Homo sapiens: one gene and its partner. The protein of the gene in region 2 purifies or fractionates together with the protein of the main gene of each other region. This does not show direct contact. Each region holds a gene or a part of one and is shown on either strand. Other genes may lie near its edges.

Region 1 (3,823 bases), on a different chromosome or scaffold from region 2:
CACTGATGTACTTGTTAGGCAACCACTTTGACCGGTAATTTTTCTCTCCCTCCTATTTGATGGGAGTAGAGGTCAGTTAGGTGGCTAAGAGATTGGTCCAAGTCTAACATCAATCAGAACAAGGACATGGTACAACGAGAGCGTTGAATGAGTTTATGTTATACTTTCAAGTGCTACTCAGGTTGTTTGATGGGGCTGGGTAGGTAGGAAGAAGAATGTCTATGATGCAAGGAGTAGGACGCTCATGGGGCCATGAGACCAGGGCAGGGCTTGGTGTATGAGCACATGGCAGAACATGTGACCATATTTCAACCCATCTGAGATGCGGAGACTCCTGTCCATGCATCATTCTTCCTCAGTGTCTTTGCCATGTATCTTTCCAGGGTTGGAATTGGAATGCAAGGCACGGAACAGCAGAGAGCAGGGTCCGCACTATAATCGTGTGGGTAGGCATTCCACAACTGTGTATAAAAGGCATACAATATGGAAGGTACAATTGGTTTCTGGCTTTGGAAAGCTTGAAACAGCTGTAGAAGCATCTTCTTTTGTCGGAACAGAGATTTTGGTAACCTTGAATGAACACGTGTTGCATCACATTTGCTTTGATTTTTTGAGGCCTGCTAAATCAAAGCTTAATTGTGAATCAAATGACCACGGGCTGGAAACCTTCCTCCCTTTTATAATATTTGAATCGTAAAGAATTTATTTTAATACAGAAGGCTGTGGCTTGAGGAAAGAATACAGGTGGAAGCCTCAGAAAAGCTAACATAAAATAAGAATTCTTCCCCTGGACATAGATATGACAAAAAGCTCTACTGGGGCTGTTGGATGAGGACAGAGCTGGAATTTTCAGTTCGACGCCACTAGATTTGTTTTGTTGTTAATGTTTTTAGAAGTTGGCTCAGTTGTGTTTGGGAGAGGATATTTAGCAAAATGTCGCAAATACTGCCACCCCACAGGCATCAAGATCTGTCCAAGGCTGCTGCCTCTGGTGAAGCAATTCTTTGTTTAAGAAGAATGGACTCATTCAGGAATAATCCATTGATTTTCCTTTTAATCTTGTCAGGTGGGGGAAAAAGGTTTGGGGCGGGGGGAATCTCATAAATTCTGGGAATTAGTTTTAATGACTTTATAAGGAAATAAACTTTGGGAAAAGACTGATTAAAATGCAAGGAGAGGCTCCCCTTTCAAGCTAAACAGGCTACTCGGACACTTGGTAGTAATTGTCCACCACATCCTGGAGCCACATCACATGGTCTCACCCAGCCTTGAAATTCAGCTTTGCTTATGATCTATGCCAGGTGAGAGCCTCAGCTGACAAAAAACAACTTGGTAGCTGTCTTCTCCTACATCAGTAAGACAGCTGTCAGGCCTCCAGGATAAACTTTAGGGGTTTTAGACTGAAAGATGTTTAACATTTGATTTTAAACAATGGGAAATTTTATATTATAGAAACTTGAGAACTTAAAAGAAGACAGTCTCTTTTAAGTTCTCAGGTTTCTATAAGGTGTTTTTTTCTTTTCCGGAGGTGGGGGGTGGCTAACAATTGATTGTAAATATAAGAGAGAACGTGTATGTGTTTTTTTCCTGACAAAGAGCTGGAAGGATGTTGCCGATGGCAGGTACTGGCTCTTTAGGGTCTGTACTAGATTTAGTGGGTCTTCTGACTGACAAGAAGTTTTTAACTGAGAAGAGTTAAGATGAAATTGTTAGATAATAAGACAAAGCTGGGTGTTTTCCACACTTTATTCCATGACAGTTATGTCAGGGGCTAGGGCCAGGTGTGAATTAAATGGAGACCCTTAAAGCAGTGGTTCTCTGCTTTGAATGTGTCTAAGAATTGCCTGGAGAACTTCGTTTAAAATCCTCAGAATCAAGGACAGTGGAGGGGAGCCTGGGACACAGGTGGGTGGGAGATTCTGAGGAATGGCGCTGCTCTAGTGTCCCTGGAAAAGGAGGAATCAGACATTGCTGTGAGGCACAGGGAACAGAAGGAACTTGAGCTCCTATATCTGACTTTCTGCATATGTGTCCATGAGATCCTGAGAGATCTGATTCCTAAGGAGAACATGTATGTCCATGAGATCCTCAGAGATCTGATTCCTAAGGAGAACATGTATATCCATGAGATCCTCAGAGATCTGATTCCTAAGAAGTACATGTATGTCCATGAGATCCTCAGAGATCTGATTCCTAAGAACATGTATGTCCATGGGATCCCCACAGAGATCTCCCTGAGGAGCACATGTCCATGAGATCCACAGAGATCTTCCTGGGACATAATACATCTATGTCCACATGATTCTCAGAGATTTGATCCCTGAGGGCATATGTGTCCATGTGATCCTTGCAGAGATCTCCCCGGGGAGCACACATGTCCGTGTGATTTTCACAGATATCTCCCTCAGGGGCACATATATATCCATTTGACCCTCACAGACATCTGGCGCCTGAGGAACATGTGTTTGTCCATGTGGTCCTCACAGACCTCCCTGAGGAGGGGCTCATTATCCCAGCCTTCAGGGTGAGGAAGCTGAGGCTCCACATGTCTCAACACTAGAAGGTGCCAGAAAAGGGCCCTTTTCCTTTCAGAAACATGTGTAGGGTTATGGTTCTCATAATTATTGAAGTAGAATGTATTGTTTTGGAGTTATTTAATCTCTCACGATGTTCATTAAAACTATATTCTACCCCTTCTCATTAAAGAAAGAAAAAGCCAGGATCAGCCCAGAACTATTCATTTTCAAAGACTGCAGCTTGACTGAATTTATTTTAAATGTGCAATGCTCTCAGATACTTCACATTGGCTTTTTAAAAAATTCACTTTTTATACAGACGTAAAATTGGAAGCATTTTTACTCCCAACAAATTCAAGATACCTACTTCCCTCTTTTTTCAGACATTTAGGGATATGAAGAAACCCCCTTAACCTCTCTTTTTACGATAGAATTTGTAGCATGAACCCTGCCTGTCAGCAGACAAAGTCCCTCAGATGACAGAACAGACTCGGCCACAAGCTGAAGCTCTGTGGTTCGCGCCAGAACCCGCGTGTTTGTGAAATTCAGAGGACTCTGTTTCCTCCCTCTTTTCATGAATGATGGGAGACATTTCCTAAGCTCCTTCCTGATGGGTGATTGGGGTGAACTGAAGCCTTCTGAGTAGGTAAAGCTGAGACTCACTTCTGCTTCACCTGCCTTTCTTTCACAGAGAAGGAGGGTGAAGCTATTTAAGATGGTGTTTCAAGTCCTAGGAATGGAACTGATTCAAATGGGGACCAAATTGGCTAAACTCCTGATACTGTCACAGAAAACAGTAAGTGCTAAACAATCCTTCCCCCAGCCCTGAAAATGGAGAACAATTTTGCATATTTACCTTCCCCCCTGGCAAAACTACTATTCAACCAGCCTTAATAAGGCACTTCACGTCATTAAAGGAGAACATTCCCCTGAAGCGAATCCTCAGAGGACATGAATAAGAGATGACTTCTGGTTATTTCCAGTGGGACATCTTGTGTTGCCATCTATATATATTAATGTCATCACAGATGAGTTGCCTATTATAACACATTTCCTCTGGGAACCATTGGGTATTTTAATAATTATTGAATTATTTATTGCTCACACAAAGCAGAGAAAAATTCTCTATGAGCAAGAACTCTTCTGTTATGAAAAAACAAAACACTTGGTCAGAAAATGTTCCCCTCCCCTCCCTCCCTCGCCTCTGCATGATTGAGAAAGTCTGCCAAAATGTATTTTGGAGACGGTTGTTAGCTTTTGTTTTACTTATTTATGTATGCTTTCATTTATGTATTTATGGGTTCGTC
Region 2 (3,601 bases):
CCCCCTAAAAAATCCCCGGTTATTTTTGTGGTTAATTGGCAATCCAATTTACTGCTATACAGTAAACACCGTCTTGACAGCATGGAGCCAGAATGCTGGGTTCAAATCCCAGCTGCTCCACTTCCTGTTCATGTGACCTTGGGCAAGTTACTAAATCTAGCCCTGAGGCTTCACATCTGTAAAATGGGGGTAATCATGAGGGCCTCCCTTGTAGGATTGCTTGGGGTAGTGAAGAAGCTGACACGCTAAGGGTGTCTGAATAGTGCCTGGGAGACAGACAGGGAAGCCCTTAAATAAAAGTTTAGCTAGTATTATTTGAATTGAATAAACTTCCACCTTATGATTAAGACACCCTAATTTGATGACTGACTATACTGCAGCTTGACAGGACACACATGCTCTTTGAGACAGGCCCCCTAGTCTTCTTGGGAAGCTTTTTTTTGCACCCAGTGTGTGTCATTGAGTGCTAGCTGCGTGGTACTGGCTTGGCAGATGGCCATGTGTCCTGACGACAGAGCGTTTCTCCTTAGAATAAGACTGTGAGGGACACACGGTCAGCCAGGTGCCCCTTCACTAAATCCCGTGGAAAACTCAGGGCCCATTCAGTAGGGATACATTTATTTCCCTTCGGGATTTGGTCTGTCTTCAAAGAACTCCAGGATTTCATCAACACATAGTTGAGAGCCAGCGCTCTGTGGCCGCTTATAAAGCAAAATGAGATAAAATCTAGAAGCACTGCTTGTGGGCCTCACTGGCATGAGACAGTTTGAACCAAAAACAAAGTAAATAAAAAGCTGTGTCTTGTACACAGTGTGAACTCTGACTTAAAATGTAAATAAGTCTATTTAACAGCTCTTTATTAACAGGTATTCACAGGTATTGGCATCTCAAATCGCTTTTGGAACAGTTTTGTTAAAACTAATGAAATAGTGCCTGTCTCTTTCACCATCTATCTTGAATATCAATGAGACAATCCGAAGCACTTCCCTGACCTCACCTAGTCTCTGGGCTGTGGGAGGAGTAAGGAAGAGCTGTCCGTTTGGATTTGGGCTGAGAGGGACAGCTATTCTTTTGCCGGTGCACGTTAACTCAGCTCCTTTGGGTCTGTGTTACAGGGATCATGTACCGCAAGTCCTGTGCATCATCAGCGGCCTGTCTCATCGCCTCTGCCGGGTACCAGTCCTTCTGCTCCCCAGGGAAACTGAACTCAGTTTGCATCAGCTGCTGCAACACCCCTCTTTGTAACGGGCCAAGGCCCAAGAAAAGGGGAAGTTCTGCCTCGGCCCTCAGGCCAGGGCTCCGCACCACCATCCTGTTCCTCAAATTAGCCCTCTTCTCGGCACACTGCTGAAGCTGAAGGAGATGCCACCCCCTCCTGCATTGTTCTTCCAGCCCTCGCCCCCAACCCCCCACCTCCCTGAGTGAGTTTCTTCTGGGTGTCCTTTTATTCTGGGTAGGGAGCGGGAGTCCGTGTTCTCTTTTGTTCCTGTGCAAATAATGAAAGAGCTCGGTAAAGCATTCTGAATAAATTCAGCCTGACTGAATTTTCAGTATGTACTTGAAGGAAGGAGGTGGAGTGAAAGTTCACCCCCATGTCTGTGTAACCGGAGTCAAGGCCAGGCTGGCAGAGTCAGTCCTTAGAAGTCACTGAGGTGGGCATCTGCCTTTTGTAAAGCCTCCAGTGTCCATTCCATCCCTGATGGGGGCATAGTTTGAGACTGCAGAGTGAGAGTGACGTTTTCTTAGGGCTGGAGGGCCAGTTCCCACTCAAGGCTCCCTCGCTTGACATTCAAACTTCATGCTCCTGAAAACCATTCTCTGCAGCAGAATTGGCTGGTTTCGCGCCTGAGTTGGGCTCTAGTGACTCGAGACTCAATGACTGGGACTTAGACTGGGGCTCGGCCTCGCTCTGAAAAGTGCTTAAGAAAATCTTCTCAGTTCTCCTTGCAGAGGACTGGCGCCGGGACGCGAAGAGCAACGGGCGCTGCACAAAGCGGGCGCTGTCGGTGGTGGAGTGCGCATGTACGCGCAGGCGCTTCTCGTGGTTGGCGTGCTGCAGCGACAGGCGGCAGCACAGCACCTGCACGAACACCCGCCGAAACTGCTGCGAGGACACCGTGTACAGGAGCGGGTTGATGACCGAGCTGAGGTAGAAAAACGTCTCCGAGAAGGGGAGGAGGATCATGTACGCCCGGAAGTAGGACCTCGTCCAGTCGTGCTTGGGTTTGGCCGCAGCCATGATCCTCCGAATCTGGTTGGGCATCCAGCATACGGCCAATGTCACAACAATCAGCCCTGGGCAGACACGAGCAGGAGGGAGAGACAGAGAAAAGAAAAACACAGCATGAGAACACAGTAAATGAATAAAACCATAAAATATTTAGCCCCTCTGTTCTGTGCTTACTGGCCAGGAAATGGTACCAATTTTTCAGTGTTGGACTTGACAGCTTCTTTTGCCACAAGCAAGAGAGAATTTAACACTGTTTCAAACCCGGGGGAGTTGGCTGTGTTAAAGAAAGACCATTAAATGCTTTAGACAGTGTATTTATACCAGTTGATGTCTGTTAATTTTAAAAAAATGTTTTCATTGGTGTTTGTTTGCGTATCCAGAAAGCAGTTCATGTTATCCATAAATCTGGTTTTGTCTTTTTTTGTTTTAAAGAAAAAGATGTATACATACAGTATAGCTGCATTAGATAAAGCAGTGTTTGTATTTTAAAGGATGTCTGCACAAAGAAGACCTAGTGATATTTTTAAATCAAATGGAAGAAGTGTCCCTTTGGCAACAAAGCAGCATATTTAATGACACTGGTTTTGCATTCAGTTTCAGGGGAAGCAAAGTCAGGAATAGCCTGTCGCCAAGAATGTTTTTTGGACATATACATACTAGGTATGCACACCTATAATCATGATGCTCATATCTGCAACAGCATATGTGTTTCTTTTCAGACACTTTTAGATCCCTCATGTGGGGAAAAAGAATTATTCAGAGATGGCAAATATAAAACTTCCTTCTAGTTCAGCCAGTAACATGTTCCCTTCCTTTGCAGCACTGAGCTGTGCTGTCAACAGCCCAGAAGCAATCAGGCCCTAGAGAAGAGACCACTCAAAGGCCCTTCTGTAGATCAAATGTTTACTGCATGTACATTTGTTTGCATGCCCACATATTTGTATTCCAACTTAAGTAACCACCACCAGTTCTGCAATTCTGACTGACAGAGATAAAGATGCTACATAGACCACAAACAACTGAAATCACAGGTATCATGAGAGTTTAGTTACAGTGACAAAAGCAAAAAAGAACAAAGGAAGATCAGGGGATCTGTGAAGCATTTGCTCTCTCTTTTCGTAAGGAGCCAAGACACCCACAGTAAATTCCCCTGTAGAGAGCTGCTACCTTAAAGCAGGATTTGCATTTTCAGAAATGCTTCCTTCCTCTCCTACATTTCAATCGTAGTAAGAAACATTTACTCACATTTTCAATCTTCTGATTTTCTAGAAACCCTAGGGAAGTGACAGTTGGCAATGAATGCTTCCTGCCTATGACCCATGGTAAATATTCTATTAATAAATGGGGGCCAGACATGGTGGCGCATGCCTG

What was found.
Region 1: the proteins of GPR39 (region 2) and SLC39A12 purify together in Homo sapiens (co-immunoprecipitation; one large-scale study listed by IntAct). This does not show direct contact.

What each region holds. Positions count from the first base shown.
Region 1 is NC_000010.11:17,954,715-17,958,537, reverse strand, and holds part of SLC39A12 (zinc transporter ZIP12 isoform 1 precursor), read right to left. Parts: intron 1-3,823. UniProt on the Homo sapiens protein: Uniporter that promotes Zn(2+) import from the extracellular space to the cytoplasm across the cell membrane. The transport activity is temperature dependent. May play a role in neurulation and neurite extension.
Region 2 is NC_000002.12:132,643,795-132,647,395, reverse strand, and holds the end of GPR39 (G-protein coupled receptor 39), read right to left. Parts: exon of another isoform or gene 2,296-3,601; coding exon 1,790-2,295; 3' UTR 1,352-1,789; coding exon of another isoform or gene 1,116-1,351; 3' UTR 814-1,115; downstream 1-813. Other genes in the region: LYPD1 (ly6/PLAUR domain-containing protein 1), read left to right, coding at 1,116-1,351. UniProt on the Homo sapiens protein: Zinc-sensing receptor that can sense changes in extracellular Zn(2+), mediate Zn(2+) signal transmission, and participates in the regulation of numerous physiological processes including glucose homeostasis regulation, gastrointestinal mobility, hormone secretion and cell death.